Linked DNA regions of Homo sapiens: regions 2, 3 and 4 are each reported to be linked to region 1. The links are microRNA targets in miRTarBase. Many come from high-throughput screens and were not tested one by one. Region 1 holds a microRNA gene; each other region holds the end of a gene's coding sequence.
What was found. The annotated mature microRNA hsa-miR-4677-5p reads UUGUUCUUUGGUCUUUCAGCCA and lies in region 1 at 2,470-2,491, shown strand. An mRNA with a match to its seed (bases 2 to 7 or 8) in the 3' UTR can be bound and repressed. Matches are read on the target gene's strand: a 7mer-m8 pairs with bases 2 to 8, a 7mer-A1 pairs with bases 2 to 7 and ends in A, and an 8mer does both.

Region 1 (4,256 bases):
CTAGATATCAATAGTATATCTATCAGCAGACAAAAATTCCTTTATACATTTCCTTTTAAAGAGCATAACTGATGAAGTCTTTAAAAGAAAACTTTGTAATATAGAGTGAATATTTAACTGTATCAATGTGAATGAATAATAACATAGCTTAACATTTTAACTACTAACTTTACCTATTTAAAGGTTAGATGATAGTGCATTTTGGTTGATAATATGCAATTGAAACTGTTATATAAAATAATCTTGGGCACATTACTTAAATTCCTTAGTTATGCATTTATTTATCTGTAATTTCAAGTTGTTAGAATCAATAATCCCTGGTGTTGCTTCTGAATCTTAACAAGCTACGTTGAATAGTCTAATAGAAAATGGCATTCTTAGAAAAGTTTTGTTGTATTTTATCTATATGACCTCTAGGGGGCACCAAAAGATCTAATTGCAGGCATTGCCTGGTAGATTCCAGCAGGTAATCATCCAGTTTTTTACAATCTAACAGGTGTGTGGAGAAATGCGCTATCAGCTGAATAAAACCAACATGGAGAAGGATGAGGCAGAAAAGGAGCACAGAGAGTTCAGAGCAAAAACTAACAGGGATCTTGAAATTAAAGATCAGGTAAGAGAGGACACAGCATAATTGCAGCAATTATAGATATGAGTAACATTCTTTCTCAAGTTGATGTTGTTTTATTCCTAATTTATTTATTTGTATTGTTTCTAACTAATGGGATGATCCAGTTTACACTGTTAGGAAAATTTCTTTTATAGTTGCCTAAAATTATCACCTTTCACATGAATGGTGAGAATACAACAGCATGCATATAAAATTCCAATCTGACAGGTCATAAATATACATTTGGATATGTGTATCTATTACTTACAAAAGTAAAAAGAAATGTTCTAATGCACAGTTTGAACCTAAAATATACATACATAAAGTTCTTGAAAGATGCCAACTTGAATCCAATTTTAAATGAAAAAGTTTAAAATTCGTAAGATGAGATGAGTTGATATGTAAATATGTCAATCAAATTGATTGTTGGCAGAGTGAAACCAGTTTTAACTAAGATAACCATGAATACGTTTGTTCATGAAGCCTAAATACAGTGACATTAGAAATGTTAGTGGATAAAAGCTGCGTACTTTAATTTCAGTTTGAACAGATGTTTTATGTTATATCTTTATTGAGATGAAGTAGATAACTCCAATTTTAGTTGACAACATGGATAAAGTTTTTAGAGAGGCAGTTCTAATAGGCTGACTTTTGATTTTCTATTTTTATGTTACAGTACAGGACCTTGAAGGTTTTCATTCTTTGTATTCAATGAAAGCAGGTTGTTTATTCAATTAAAATAGTAAGACTGGGTTCTTAGTGTCAATATTTTAAAATAATTGTTTTAGAATTTAGAAGTAGGTCGCTCCAAATAAGTTTTTTTTCAAATATGTTTCTAGTTCGAGGTTTTTCATCATATTTTCCAACATATTTTCTCTTTTGAGCCAATGAAGTCTTTACAACAAATGATGCAAAGACAATTGGGAAAAGTATTGAAAATGAAAGTGATAATGAAGACTAGAACAAAAAGCTTTTCAAGTCATAACTGAAATCCTTAGTACTAAATTAAAATCCTGGCAACCAAAGTAAAATTCTGCTTTTGTACCACTATATTTGGTGTTGTAATGGGTTTTACATTTTCAGAAGACTTTTAATTATTAACATGTACAAATAATGAAACATTTTATTGCATCCAGTTGGGGGCGTGCCTGATAGTGGAATGGAAAATGCTTTCTGTCAGGGACTGAAGGCCTAGGTCTACTAAGTTTATCACAGATAACTTTTCTTTCCTGATATATTGTAATTTTTTAAAAAGGAATCAATATATTGGCATACTTTTGGCCTTTCGTATTATTCTACAGCATTCTGACAGCATAATATTTTGGACTAACTGCAAAAATACATCAGGAAAGAGTCTCAGTTATTTAAAATTCCATTATAATTTTCTAGAGGAAAAAAGATCAGGGACAATAGGAGTATAATATCACTTGTAAAGGAATAACTTGTTTAGAAGCATTTGCAATATTAGAAGTATTTGCAGTATTAAATCTCATTTTAATTAATCCGTGATGGTATGGAGGCTAAAGTTGCAGGATTTACAAGGAGCAGTTTTCATTTGTAAACGTTTTCTGATAATAGTGAAACAATAGTAGTTTTCATAATGACGTTTAGTGGTATGTTTTTAGATAGAGATGTGCCTTTTTAGGAGGTCACAGCTTTAGGAATAAAACCTCTGAACAGTTACAAGATGTTTGTGATGTGTTGTGAAGTGATGTGCTTGTTACCATTTTTTTTTCCCAGACGGAATGTGAGGAAATCTTATAGGTACTCTTTTTAACTGTTTTGTATTGAACAGACAGTTTCAGAAAAGAAGTCGTGGTGTCTCATTCCATGGATGATTTGGAGTAGCAAAGCAGCAATTGTTCTTTGGTCTTTCAGCCATGACCTGACCTTCTGTCTGTGAGACCAAAGAACTACTTTGCTTGGCCACCATCTGCACTCAAGAGAGAAATTTACATTTAACTTTTAAAAGCGGGGCATGTTGAGCATTTATCTGAAATACCTACAATAATATAAAGTAGATTAAATGTTTAAGTGTTGTGTATCTTACAATTCAGCATCACAAGCAGGCTATCTGTAGGTTTGCAAACAAGGTGTTCTTCATAATATAGTCATTTTATTCATATTTTAGTTCATCTGACCACTTGATACATTTTTAAAGTGGGTGGGAAACTGTGAGATTGGAATGTGTGAGAACAACAGCTTTTTTGATGTATACAAAATAGGGCAAATGGTTAACCACCAAAATAATTTTCCTTGTGACCTGAGCCTTGGCTCTGGCATAATTAGAAGGAAAGGTTAGGAGAGTAACAATGGCAGTCGCTTCCACCCACTTTCTTCTTTTCTTCTTTATATTGTGTCAGGAACCGATGGGCGGATTATCCTTCCCATCAACTCCTTTGTATCTCTTCAGCTTAGAGAATTCCTGTCAGCCTCAGAGGATGCTTCTTGCACCAGAAAAAGAGGCATTTGGTATGGAGGAGAATGTGAAATATGCTCTTTGATTTTTATGAGAAATTTTTTTAGGCAATGGTTATACACACACACACACTCGATCAGGGGAATTTAAAAACATGTATGAGGGTATAGGGAATATTGTAATGAGTCCTCACATTTCCATCACCTACACTCATCATTTTGCCCGTCCTCTTCCTCAGTCCTATTCCATCACTCATCATTTTGCCAGTCCCCTTCCTCAATCCTATTCCATCACTCATCATTTTGCCAGTCCTCCTCCTCAATCCTATTCCATCTATCTCACTTTTTTCTCTCTACTTCTGTCCTCATCGTCACCTTCATCTTCTTTGTCATGTTTTTTCTGCTCCACCTTCTCATCTTCATCTTCTTCTGTCTTCTTCCTCTACCTCTTTTTCTTCTTTTGCAGAAGTATTTTAAATGGATCTCAGACCTTATGTTATTTTACTCATAAATACCCATGTGGATCTATGAAGGATATTTTTACATACTATGTCATTATCATACCTAACAATGTTAACAATACTTCTTTAATATCAAATAACACCCAGCCTATATTCACATTTCTTTGTCTCAAAAATGTTGATTTTACAGTTGGTTTATTCAAATTAGGAGAACAAGTATGTTTTTGTATGTCCAATTTTCTGGTGTTACCCTTTTTAATAGGAAATAAACAGAACTCTTAGTAAAATTTCATCTTTCTTTGTTGTTGTCTGTTAAATTTTGTACATAATGTTTTGATTATGCTTTATTTTTATAAAATGCCTCATTGTCATTCTAAAGAGGTATAAATTAATCCTACAGCAAAGTATGTGAAGGAAATGGCTACCACGCAGCATTCCTGATAATCATATCCCAAAAGGAGCTTCCTCGCATCCGAAACCCCAAATTCAGCATTAATTTCACAGCCTTGTATTTAAGATTTGGACATGTTGCAGGAGGCCCTAACATGACAAGGATGAGCTGACCTGAAATGAGTGATGCAGAAATAGAGTTTTTTTGTCAACTTCCCTTTTGGTAAATTAATCTGAGAAGACGATTCTTTATAGCCGCTAACCTTTGATTAGGGCCCAGTGCAAAGTGAAAATACAGGACCCTTTTGTTCAGAAAGCAGGAAAGAAGTGATATTAAAAAGAACTAAAATATAAAACATTTTCCTTTCTTCTTCAGT
Region 2 (4,256 bases), not on the chromosome of region 1:
TACTGCTGTGCCTGGCTGGGGACACGCCAGCCACCATGACTGTGACAGTGGTGAGTGTCTGCCACCCATTGGGCTGAGCTCTGCAGGGCGGTGTTGGCCCCCAGAGCACTCCCTGTGAACAAGGGAGCCGTCTCCTGTGAAGTCAGGTGTGGGTCTCCTCCAAGAGGAGCTAGGAGTGGAAAACCTGTGGTTCTCCCCCAGCCCCTCCCTTTCTCCCAGGAACCCTGTCCCTTTCTTCCCCCGGCAAACCCCACCCCTTGCTCCCAGGAACCCTGTCCCTTTCTTCCCCGGCAAACCCCACCCCTTGCTCCCTGGGACCCTGTCCCTTTCTCCCCCGGCAAACCCCACCCCTTGCTCCCTGGAACCCTGTCCCTTTCTCCCCCCGGCAAACCCCACCCCTTGCTCCCTGGGACCCCTTCTGTTTCTCCCCCCAGAATTCTGTCCCTTTCTCCCTGGAACCCCTTACCTTTCTCCCCGCCAGAACCCTTCCCCTGTGGAATCCCTCCCCGCTCTGGAAACCCTCCCCTTCCTTCCCCACCCCCACCCCCGGAATTCCTCCCCTTTCTCCCCCTCAGAACCTCTCCCCTTTTTCTGCCTACCAACCCCTCCCCTTTCTGCCCCCCACCCCCTGTGGAAACCCTCCCCATTCTTCCCCCTGGAAACCCTCGCCTTCCTCCCACTCAGAACCTCTCCCCTTTCCCTACCCCTTGGAACCCCTCCCTTTTTCCCCCTACCAACCCCTCCCCTTTCTCCCCCCAGAACCCTGTTGCTGCTGAGTAGCTGCTGCCACCCATCCTGATATCCATGCTTGTTTTCAGGCAACTGGTTTCCGGAGCTGAGACACTGAATCTTGTTGCCGAAATCCTTAAATCTATAGACAGAATTTCTGAAGTTAAAGACGAGGAGGAAGACTCTTGAGGACCCCTGGGTGTTCTCAGCATGAAGCTCCGTGTATACCCTGAGGTCACCACCGCTCGATCTAAATGTGCAGTTGTGTCCTTAAATATGCAGTCTTCACCCAGAGTAAAGTGTTGATCGCAAGAGTCCAGTGTCGTGCCCTCAGCCAGTTCTTGGCCACCACAATGGGAGCAGCCCTGGCCGAGTTGTCTCTGTGGTTTCTATGCAGCCCTTCTTGGCGAAATTCCTGCGATCTTATAGATTCTAATGAGCTCTTGGAAGACATTGTCATAAAAGCCAGTGATTTTAAGAAAAAGAGTGGTTCTGGAATCAATGTTTTCCAGTCCCATCCCAGAACATCAGTTGTAAGATAAGTACAATTGGTTGTCCTTGATTTCATAAGTAGAACAAACACTAAATGTGCCTCTGAGATGGCCACCCCGGGCAGGGACCTGTGCCTTCCGCCGATGCTCAGGGCTCCCTCTGGCTCCCGGGTCACTCTTGTGGCCCCAGTGGGTGGTCCCTGCAGTCATGGCCTGAGTGCGCAGGGGCCACCGCGTGGCTGCTGCTGTCCTCCTCCGGGACCCACGGGGACCAAGGTCACACGTTCCGTGCTGTGAAGCTGTCCAGATGTGCCTCTTTGGCTGGGGGTTCTGGTGGACGTTTCAAGTGGCATTTTGTACAATGCAGGTTAGAATTCAGGAATTTCAAGTATGTGCCCGGGTCTGTCAGGTCCCAGTTGCCTTTCTGACGGCCCCCCTCAGAGGGACGGCGATGAGCACTAAATGCTTTTTTGACTATTTTCCTATAGATTTTTTTTAAAACTTTTTTTTCCTCCTGTTCCAATTGATAGCTTTCTTATTTAATAAATTCTGTAGTTCACCGCACTGTCTCTTCTCTGCTGACTTAGCCAGTCCTTGGAGAACGCCGTGGGCTTCCACACCTCACTTGCTCTTGCCCTAACTGGTGCCTTGTGCTGGCAGATTCTCTCCAGGTCCTCAGCCCTTGGGGTTAGGGGCAGACTCAGACCACTGCTGCCTGGGCCTGACCACTGGGACCCACACGTGATGGACGTGTGAGTCACGCAGCTGCACGTTTCAGAGCTGGACAGACTGGATTCTAGCATTGGATCATCTTTTCGGATCATGTGGTTGAATTTTTCAAACAAGGCGTCTGAATTGCTAGACCCCTAGCCTTAGCTACAGGTGAAGGCCAGAGCTTTCCAGCAGTCACTGTGGAGCGGTCCTGCTGCGTAGCCCTATGCGCCTCCTGCTCCTGCTGGTTGGTGAAAGCAGGCTCTGGATTCTGTTGGCAGAGCTGACTTGAGACAGGGTGCTGTGGTTGGGAAGTGCCGGAATGAGGTTCTGAGTGTATAGGCAGCTCTGGGAGCCCTGTAGCAGCAGGATGGGGGCATCTGGGGAGGATGCCTCAGGCCACAGGCCTTCCCTGAGGCCCTTTGGGAGAGACAGCATTTGATGGGGTGGGGGTCACAAAGGCCAGATCGCCAGGCGGGTCCCATCCACCAGATGCGTGTGAAGTGGGGTGGTCCCCTGGCCCTCATGCCAGCAGCTCATGGAGCAGGTGGGGCCCAGGGAAGCGCGGTGGGGATGGGCATGTGGGTTTTGCGCACCCCTCTCTTTTGATGTCTGTGTTTGAAGCGTTTGATAGTAAGAAGTTTAAAAATACAATTTGTGGCGCGGTATTTAGTGCCTGCCTTCTGCCTCCAGATTTCAAGCCCGATGCAGGGACTGAAACGAGGCGCTCGAGGAGCCCCCAGCCGCCTGGTTCCATCCCCTCCATCTGTTTCTTGCCAATCCCTAGCTCCCAGTTTGGCCTCACCTGGGCCTAGCCCTTTGCCACCAAAAGCCCACCTCCTAGGTAGGCAGGGCAAACCCTCTTTATAGTTCTCCAGCTGATGCCCCTAGCTCACCCCAGGCTGGAGTGGAGGCCCCCTCAACTGGCTGGGCCCAGGATGTCTTTGCAGCACCGATACTTAGAAGCTCTCAGGAGCCAGGAACTGTAGGCCCCTGCCCAGCTCCCGGCCGAGTTAGCCCTGGCACGTTCCTGAAGGAATGAATGCCCACTTAGGGGAGGGCCCCGGGGCAGCTCTCCAGGCCAGGAGACCCCAGAGGGTGTGCACAGGTGACCAGGGAAGCGAGTTTGTGTGGTGCGGGCCCCCACCCTCTGGCCTCAGTCTCCTGCACGTGCCTGGAGATCGGCCTGGCCTCGGCGATCCTGAGCATGCAGGGCAGGCTGGGGAAAAAGCCTTTCACGTAGACTTTCTCATCCGTTGCTTAACCAAACCCCAACATGTCCGTTAACAGAGGATGAAACAAGCACAGAGAGGTCCAGCGATGGCCGAAGGTCACAGCCAGTAAGGGCCGGTCTTCCGGATCGTGACCAGGTGGCCGGGTGCCTGTCCCTGTCTGTCCCCTGCCTTGAGGTCCCGCGTCCACCCGCGCCCCTCCAGAGCGCGCGGAGGCGGCCCCCAGGGCGGCCGCGCGAGGGCAGCATCGAGCCGTTCGCCTCTCTAGTCCCGGCAGGCCGCAGCGGCCGTCCCGGCGTGCCCCGCGCCTCAGGAGGCGGGACTTCCGGCGCGCGGCGCTCTTGTTCTGCAGCCGCCGGAAGCGTCGAGTCTGCAGTCGCCCGGGCGACGGCGGGGTCCGCGCGGCCAGGTAAGGTGTGCGCCCAGCAGGTGAGGCGCGGGTGGCGTCGGCAGCTTCAGGGCTCTCCCCGTGGAGGGGGCGCTGTCCCGAGGAGCGGATAGCCGAGGCCCGGGACGGGGGCGGGGCAGCGCCCAAAGTCGGGGAAACTGAGGCCCGGCGTGGCCCCCGTCCGGCCGAGCCTGGGCGCGCGGGGATTCTGGCCCTGGGAGCCCCTCGGCTGGGAGCGGGCTGCGGGCTCCGAGGAGGCTCCGGCGGGGCGGCCCCGGCTGCAGGGCGCCCGCGTGCGTCTCGGGGACTGCGCCGGCGATTCCGCGGTGGCCGAGCCTCGGAGGGGGTTTCCCCAGTTCACGCAGCGAGCAGGAGGCGGAACTGGGCCTGGGCCGGGTCTGTCTCCCAAGCCAGTGCCTAAACGCCCATCGTCCTGGCGCATCCTGGGGTTCCCTGGGCCCAGCCGAGTCTGGGTGGCGTCCCCGCAGCTGGGGCTGGAGGGACCGCCTGCTGCGCTCCGTCTTGGTGGGCAGCCCTCATGACCAGCCCTTGGGAGAGGGGTGCGGGGAGAGGGACAGCCCCTGATGTCAGTGGCTCAGCACGTGTGACTTTGACCTCCTTCCTGCTGATCATTGCTCACCTGAGCGACACGGGGAGGGGGAGGCAGCAGCCTCGTGTGAGGCTTCCAGAGGAAAGCGTCTCCGC
Region 3 (4,256 bases), not on the chromosome of region 1:
GCCTCCTCCGGGCAGCACCACGACTTCCTCTCCGACCTCTTCTCCGACGACTACGGGGGCAAGAACTGCAAGAAGCCGGCCGAGTACGGCTACGTGAGCCTGGGGCGCCTGGGGGCCGCCAAGGGCGCGCTGCACCCCGGCTGCTTCGCGCCCCTGCACCCACCGCCCCCGCCGCCGCCGCCGCCCGCCGAGCTCAAGGCGGAGCCGGGCTTCGAGCCCGCGGACTGCAAGCGGAAGGAGGAGGCCGGGGCGCCGGGCGGCGGCGCAGGCATGGCGGCGGGCTTCCCGTACGCGCTGCGCGCTTACCTCGGCTACCAGGCGGTGCCGAGCGGCAGCAGCGGGAGCCTCTCCACGTCCTCCTCGTCCAGCCCGCCCGGCACGCCGAGCCCCGCTGACGCCAAGGCGCCCCCGACCGCCTGCTACGCGGGGGCCGCGCCGGCGCCCTCGCAGGTCAAGAGCAAGGCCAAGAAGACCGTGGACAAGCACAGCGACGAGTACAAGATCCGGCGCGAGCGCAACAACATCGCCGTGCGCAAGAGCCGCGACAAGGCCAAGATGCGCAACCTGGAGACGCAGCACAAGGTCCTGGAGCTCACGGCCGAGAACGAGCGGCTGCAGAAGAAGGTGGAGCAGCTGTCGCGCGAGCTCAGCACCCTGCGGAACTTGTTCAAGCAGCTGCCCGAGCCCCTGCTCGCCTCCTCCGGCCACTGCTAGCGCGGCCCCCGCGCGCGTCCCCCTGCCGGCCGGGGCTGAGACTCCGGGGAGCGCCCGCGCCCGCGCCCTCGCCCCCGCCCCCGGCGGCGCCGGCAAAACTTTGGCACTGGGGCACTTGGCAGCGCGGGGAGCCCGTCGGTAATTTTAATATTTTATTATATATATATATCTATATTTTTGTCCAAACCAACCGCACATGCAGATGGGGCTCCCGCCCGTGGTGTTATTTAAAGAAGAAACGTCTATGTGTACAGATGAATGATAAACTCTCTGCTTCTCCCTCTGCCCCTCTCCAGGCGCCGGCGGGCGGGCCGGTTTCGAAGTTGATGCAATCGGTTTAAACATGGCTGAACGCGTGTGTACACGGGACTGACGCAACCCACGTGTAACTGTCAGCCGGGCCCTGAGTAATCGCTTAAAGATGTTCCTACGGGCTTGTTGCTGTTGATGTTTTGTTTTGTTTTGTTTTTTGGTCTTTTTTTGTATTATAAAAAATAATCTATTTCTATGAGAAAAGAGGCGTCTGTATATTTTGGGAATCTTTTCCGTTTCAAGCATTAAGAACACTTTTAATAAACTTTTTTTTGAGAATGGTTACAAAGCCTTTTGGGGGCAGTAATTGGCTTTTGTTTTTTATTTTTTTACTTTATTTTGGATTTGTAGGATTTTGTTTTTGCGTTTCTGGTGTGTAGGGGGTTGTGTGTGGGGGGCTGCTGTTATTTTTGGAGGTTTTGGTGGTTGGGTGGGGGTGTTGCAGCTGGTTTTTCTGCCTCCTCTGCTACTCCCCCTCCCACACACACAGGGTCTGCTTGAGATGGGGTTCCAGCCCCGGGGGAAAGGGGAGAAGAGTAATGGGTCAGGCATTCAGGCTGACTCAGAGCCCCTAGGCGCCGGGACGGGTGGCTGGGAACCCTGCTTGAGAAGAGATTCCGGAGCCTCTGGCTGGTCCCGAGTGTCAGGCTTGGGTTTGGAAGGGCTGGGAGGTCTGTGACCCCTGCCCTGTGTTTGGGGACTAGGTAGGCAGGCCTGTGACTGTAGGAGGAGGGGGTTCAGGTCTTGGTCCTGCTGAGCCCGAGTCAGGGCAGATGCTTTTGGTCAGTGTAGTGGGGTGGGTTGTTTAAAACACAGTTTGTGTATACATGTGTATTTTAAAGAGGGGAGCCTGGGTGTGTGGGCGAGTCTGTGTTTGTGTGTCCCTGGCCAGCAGGAGGGGAGAGGCCAGGCCAGGTGGAGAGAGGTGGGGGAGGGGTTCCCACACTTTGATTACCTTTCCTGAGGATGGGAGGCTCATCACTTGCTCTCTTTGCCCAGACTTGGACACTGAGCCCACCTCACCTGCCTGCTCAAGGTGGCTGAGCCCAGGCACAAACGTGGGGCTGCTAGCCCTGATTCCCTGGGACAGGCTCCTCTTCCCTGCCCACTGATCCCTTTGCCCCTTCCGGCTTCTCACCGCACCCCCTACTCCCATCCAGCCCTGGATGGCATTCCTGAGAGTTGAGGATGTAGATGGATGTGAGTGGATACATGTACAGCGTCCCACAGTGCCTGGCACGCAAGAAGTGTTATATAAGCGCTTGCTCTTGTTATTATTTTTTGCTGGGAAGCTGCTGGCATTTGGCACCCCAGTCTCCAGTGCAGCGCCAGTGTGGCCAGTACTTGCCAGGGGCCGGCATCTGGTAAACACTGGACCTGCCCCATCCCATTTAGACCTCACAATAACCTTTGGGAAGGTGGGGATTGTTATGACGCCTGTTTTTAGAGGTGGGGAGCAGCTTTGGGCTGTCCGATCCCTATGGGCAAGACACTGGTTGGGGGTTGCCCTGCCCTGAGGAATTCAGGGGCAGCAGGCATCGTAGCCTGGTTTGCCAAGGACCTGGGGCGGTCTGGGATCTCAGGAGCAGTTGCTGATACCGTGGTTCGCGAATGGGAAATGCTTTGCCCCTCCTTTTCCTTTTGGGGGCCTGGTTGTGCTTTCCCTGTGGGAGCCTGGGATGTGGGGAACAGACAGCGACACTCATCCCCCACCGCCACAAAGCGGAGGATTCCTATAAGCTCCACCTCCCTAATGCCAGTGTCTCCTGATGGTGGCTCGAGGGCTATGCAGATTGCTGGACACAGATAACCTCACTTCAACCTGGGACCTGCAGCGTGGCCCTGACCACGTCCCCTCCCAGCCCTGGGCAACTGGACAACTGGCCGGGCATGCCTTCAAAGCCTCGAAGTCAGTTCAGTCCCAAGCCCCACTGGTCTCGATGGTTTCTGTCAGTAGCAGCGACAGCAATGTGGGCTTGACCTCAAGGATTTACTTGCTGAAGGCAGAGGCTGAGGGGCTGGACCTAGGGAAGGAGGGAGGTGGAGAGGGTCGAAATTGAGGAACAAATCTCAAATCCCTGCTCCCTCCTTTGTCACCAAGAGTTGGCTGGTGGCCACTGCTCACCCAAATGAGGTGAGAGGGAAGCAGCCTGGCCAGACGGTGCCCCTCTTCCGCCCCCGTCTGCCCCACAGCTTCGCTTCTGTTTCCCCAGTGCTGTCCTGGAACCAGCGTTGAGTCAGTTCTTCACACACTCACATCTTGCTCTCATCCACAGTACCCCACAGAAGGTGCTAGACCCATTTCTAAAAGCACACATTGAGGTCCACAGAAGTGAGGTTTGTGCTCAAGGTGGGCTAGGTGGAGCAGGTTACAAAACCATCCGACTCCCAAGTCTATGGGGAAAGTTTGGGGCTGGGAGCCTGGTTTGTAATCCCAGTTCCTGTTTAAAATCCCAGGCTCTTCTTGGAGGGCTCCTTGCCTGACCTCAAGTTCAGGCACTCCAAGCCCCAGAACTGCAAACATCAGTTTCACAGTTTGGAAGCAACAGAAAGTGAATTTGAACCTGAACCCCTTGGGCTGCCTCTAAGGAGGGCTGGGAGAAGCAGTTCACAGGTTGAGGGCTTTGACGGTGGCTTGGTATGGGAGCACTGTGGACGGAGCTGTGCCCAAAGGACTTGGGGAGATGTCATAGTTAGGGCAACACCAACCCCACAGTTCACCAAGCTGCAAGGGTGAAGGGCTCGCAGGGAGGAACCAGTCCATTCCGACATCCAGAAACAGGAGGGGGTGGGATGGGGTGAGGCGAGCCCAGGAGGCCAGGGACGAGCCTTGAGGAATCATGATAATAGCAGGTGTGAGACAAGGGCTTAGATGTGCAAAGCACCACTCCAAGCCCTTGGCACAGAGGGAGGTGCTGGGTCCTTAGATATGTGGGAGAAAGCCGGTCATGTTAACCACAGACCCATTTAGTGTGTTTGACCACTGAGGCTAGCTGGGAGGTGGGAGCCTGGAACCCCAACTAATGTTTGCTCAGGACAAGAGAGTTCACAAAACAAGACACATTCACACCTCATAATCTTATGCAATTGTCCCACGGCCTGGTGATTTTAGCAAGGAGATAAGTGGATGTCAGAAATGAACGCTCGAGACACTGCTGGGTGCCGGTTCCACACTGACACTGTGCTCCTTGGTTTAATCAACTCATTAGCCTTTTGGAGGCTGCAGCTTT
Region 4 (4,245 bases), not on the chromosome of region 1:
GTACACAGTACTTTTGCTTCAGTTGTGTTTGCAGCAATAATTTTTACCTAAACAATATTCAAAAACCAAAAAAAAAAAAAACTCCAAAAAGGTCTTTGTATTATTTCTTCTTTTAAACCACATTCCAAAGGGATGCTTTTCAAACTGAAGTCTGCCATCTATTAGGAGGCCACAAAGTAACTTAGTGTCTGTGTCTAGTATTTTTAAAAATAATAAAACAGAAGATGCCAGCATGCACACTTAGGAAAAACAAGTACTGTCTTGTTAAATTTTTGCTTATACGTATCTGAGAGACAGAGAGAGAGAGAGAGAGAGAGAGAGAGTGTGTGTGTGTGTGTGTGTGTAATGGGTTATTTCTTACTGTGGTCAAAAAGTTGAAAGCCACTGTAAGTAGGCTTCTGTCTGCCAGTAAATTAACCAGATGCTAACAGCATTTATTCTTCCAGGAACTCTGGGTTAAGCTGTCCAGACCACAAGTAGGTGCTGTTCAGTCCTTTTATGGAAAAAATTAGAGAAATCAAGTCTAAATAATTCAAGTAATTAAATAAAATACATGCTATCAATTATTGATGCTACATTGTGGGTTATAAGAAATTGATCTACCAATAACTGCACAACAGAGAAAGAAAATATCCATTTCTTAATTCAACATTCATCAGAATAATTACTGCCCTCTATAAAACTGAAATGGAATTAAACTATAAATACCCTTAAGTTTTAGCCATGATAATATTTAAGATGGAAAAAACAAAAGAACAAATAAACCCCACATATAAATGCTTATAAACCAAATATGAAATCACTTTTTGTACAACTTTTAATTTCTAAGACATTTAAAAAGTCACACTAAAAGTATCTCATAGAAACAAAGACTAACAATTTGTAAACAAAACAATCTGTAAACAAAAATCAATTACTAGTGTGTCCAAATGTTATTTTTAAAAGTTAACATTATACCAGTTTTTTCAAGTTTAAAAAGTCGGTGCTGCATCTATGTTCACATTAAAAAAAAAAACTTGTAAGAATTCTGCCTTTATGCATTAAATAACGTGCTACCAACAAAACTAGCACATAAGAGCCTGTAAATGATGAAAACCTGTGTCCCTGGCAGACGAGGTCATCACTGAGGCTGCAGGGAGGGCCATGGGCACCCAGCAGATGGGGAGGCCGCACTGCCGCTGAGAGCAGGTACACGTGCGCCTTTAACACATCTGAGAGCAAAACGCGAGAGGCTCCGTCCATCTCTACTAACCAGCACCTTAGTGCAGCAATTTAAGGAGCTAACATTAGTGTGTATGTGTGTACAAATTTCATGTAAAGCCTCATATTTAGAGGTCTATTTTTACAGAGAATGTACATAAAGCTACGTAAATAGTAAATCTAAGAAGTATCTTGGAAAATCAGTAAAAATTAATACAAATGTTATAATCTGAAAACTTATAATTGTAAAATAATTTATTTAAGTATTGCAGAACCAATTAATAAGAATCTGCAAGTTTTCCCCAAGAAACTCTGGAACCATAGTGCCTAATGCCCTTTAAAATCGATACTAAAGGAGAGAGAATAAAAGGACTGCTTGATGTGACAGTCACTGGTGCATCCCTATCCAGTCAGAAACAAAACTGTAGCTCCAGAATTGACCTGATGATGAGCATCTGCAGCTCTGCCTTCCAGGGTCTATCTCCTCTCTTTCACTGGCGTGCAGGAACTGCAGTAAAATGAGGACCCCCAGAGCGACTGTCCTTACCAGGACTCAGAACGTTTGGCCTCCGTATTCTGGCATCCATTTCTGGAGTTCGTCATATAAAGCAGCCTCCGACCTAGCTCCAATGGAAGCACCTGCATTTGGAGTCAGTCTCTCCAGAGGCAGATGCTTGGGCATGTGCTCAGGAAGAGCCTCGAGGAACCGTGATTACGCAGCAGCCCAAGGCTGTAACAATCTATTTGTTCTCAAGGCATATGAGTCCCAGGTTCGAAGCCGTCCTTCCACCCCATGCATATCCTTTGCTTCAACAGCAGTGAGGATGCCTCCAGGAAGTGTATTGTACTCAGGGCTTACAAATCCAAAACTGGCTTAAGTCCTCGGATGGAGAGAAACTTCCAAATGAACAAAAAGTTGAGCTAAACACTGAAAAGTTTAGTATTTTACTTAAAAATTTTCAGACATTTTCCAAGTATCTAGGAACTCTTTGGATGTGCCTGAAAGTGGTGTAAGTGAGAAGTGATATTACTCTACTCCTGAGTTTCTTTCTGTTCTTCCCTTCACTTGGTCTGCTCAAAGTATGGACTCCAAGCTTCACTAAAAATCAAACCTGGCAATTAATACTTCAATAGGCATAACAATGAAATTGGAAAAGAGCTGAATTTTATTAACTTTTTAGGTATGTCGATTTTATGCTGAGAAATTCACCAGTACTATACTGGTGGTATTTACTGAAGCTTGTTTAGAATCACAAAATGAATGTTCTTTTATTTTAAAACCAAGCTGCATTTTAGAAAGATGTGAAGCTCGGAAGGAAATGCAGACGTATAAATAAGGGGGAAGTGTACTCAACAAAGGTTGTAAATATACAGATTAAAGTTTCTTATTATTTTGGTTTAAAGTGGAAATTTCTGATGTCAAATAGACACAGCCTGCGTTTCATAAATTTCTCCCAGAAAACCTTTAAATGTAACAATTTGAAAAAAATGTTTTACTTTTGTCTGAACACAGACCATCTATTTTCATACACACAGTGCATGTGAACATATTTATATAGCAGACTGCATAACTACGAATTGTGTGCAAATGGGCCCATCTCCTATTTTTGCATGCACAGATTTCGGTATTCTATCCTAGTGGATGGTTGACACAGAGTGCAATTTCATAGTTTTTATTCAGTGGACTTAAAGCCAAGAAACCATCCCAATAATTATTTACAATTTAATAACTGAATGATTATCAGATCGTGTTATACTGCAAAACTGTTCTTACACCATGAATGCTGATGCTGTGAACTTTGGATGTTAAACTGGTAAAAGCTGGAGGCTTCAAATGGCATATGCAAATGTAACCAAAGCCTGAGGACTATGAAGAAAGAGGAGTTTCTACCACTCGGCATTTATAGTTTTTATATGCATTGCAGAAGCATGGGGAATTAAGTGATCTCTGAAAAAAATGCTTTAAAAAACTGAGTATACATATAGCCTATAAGGTAAAAATCCAAGTTACAAGTGTATTAAACACTGGCAACTATGTTATCAGAGGGAATACTGAATTATATATATACATAAACTGTCATTAAACTGTGATTACATGATACTTCCTACCACAGCTTATTAGACTGTACAACAGAAGATATTCCTGTGGCTCTCTAAGGCTCCAGGTTTAAAAGAATTTAGTATTTTCCCCTTGGCTCAAAGTCTAATCAGTATCATTCTATAACATAAATCAGAAACTACGCTTTTTGCTTTTAAGGAAATAAGAAACATAATTGCAACCATTACAGCTCCAACATACACTGCAAAAATGATATCTACAAGCAGTTGCCATTGCATTTGAAAAATGCATTTTCTGAATAAGCTTCACTTAGTACCAAGGATGCCTTTCAAGTCAGCTTCTACATTCTGAATAAAGTACATAATGGGATTTAAGTAAATCTTTAGAAGTCCCGGAGTTTGCCTTTTCTAACATTTTCATATCAGGTGAAAACAATTTTTTCATATGGGTGATTGTATTTACCAACATGAGCAAATGTCTACAGAAGAATGCGCTGTTCTATATGTCTGTAAGGAATCTGCACTTAACTGGAAACTACAGGGTCCATCAGAAAGTTAAATTTAAAAAAGATCAGCCATAGCCAAGTTCTTCGTAGATTATGAAAAAAAAATGGCACTGATAGGTCTAGGTTCTGAAGAGGGGCCACGGTTGAATGGAAATGCTTCTACATGGGACAGGAATGTCGTGAATCTGGAGTTCTCGGGTCTCTTGGTGGCAGAAGACGCCGTCTGTGCGTCTCACAGTGCTTTCTGATGCCCATTTACAGAAGGCTTGGCTGTTTCTGAATCCCTTGAAGTATTTGGTAAGTGAAGTTTATGAAGCCCTGCAAAAAAATTAAGAAAATGGTGAGAAATGATATATTGCTGAGTGGCTGGGAAAGGGTTAGGGTAGGGAGAAGAGGAGATTTACAAAGCTAAGTGTTATTTGGAAAGCTGTGAGGTGCTGGCCAGATCCCCTTGAGGAATGAATGATTTCTTCTCCCTACT

Region 2: miRTarBase lists ENTR1 as a target of hsa-miR-4677-5p. Seed matches in the 3' UTR shown: 7mer-A1 at 1,302-1,308.
Region 3: the mRNA of CEBPB is a reported target of hsa-miR-4677-5p. Seed matches in the 3' UTR shown: 7mer-m8 at 1,274-1,280.
Region 4: miRTarBase lists LMBR1 as a target of hsa-miR-4677-5p. Seed matches in the 3' UTR shown: 7mer-m8 at 2,966-2,972, 7mer-m8 at 2,463-2,469, 7mer-m8 at 2,252-2,258 and 7mer-A1 at 1,945-1,951.

Annotation. Positions count from the first base shown.
Region 1 is chr1:243,343,719-243,347,974 of GRCh38, forward strand. It overlaps MIR4677 (microRNA 4677), which reads left to right and starts at 2,458; the gene lies at 2,458-2,537. SDCCAG8 (SHH signaling and ciliogenesis regulator SDCCAG8) reads left to right here. Exons shown (of 18, transcript NM_006642.5): 12 at 497-613.
Region 2 is chr9:136,399,450-136,403,705 of GRCh38, reverse strand. It overlaps ENTR1 (endosome associated trafficking regulator 1), which reads left to right. Exons shown (of 10, transcript NM_001039707.2): 10 at 819-1,784. The coding sequence ends at 918. SNAPC4 (small nuclear RNA activating complex polypeptide 4) reads left to right here and starts at 3,536. Exons shown (of 24, transcript NM_003086.4): 1 at 3,536-3,572. RefSeq lists silencers at 3,089-3,138, 3,289-3,498, 3,569-3,698, 3,769-3,878 and an enhancer at 2,387-3,323.
Region 3 is chr20:50,191,358-50,195,613 of GRCh38, forward strand. CEBPB (CCAAT enhancer binding protein beta) reads left to right here. Exons shown (of 1, transcript NM_005194.4): 1 at 1-1,311. The coding sequence ends at 714. CEBPB-AS1 (CEBPB antisense RNA 1) reads right to left here and starts at 712. Exons shown (of 7, transcript NR_125739.1): 1 at 307-712; 2 at 1-65. RefSeq lists silencers at 1-285, 706-815 and an enhancer at 2,180-2,741.
Region 4 is chr7:156,680,082-156,684,326 of GRCh38, forward strand. LMBR1 (limb development membrane protein 1) reads right to left here. Exons shown (of 17, transcript NM_022458.4): 17 at 1-4,082. The coding sequence ends at 3,997. Among named protein-coding and RNA genes, the nearest start is that of RNF32-AS1, 22 kb to the left of the region's middle.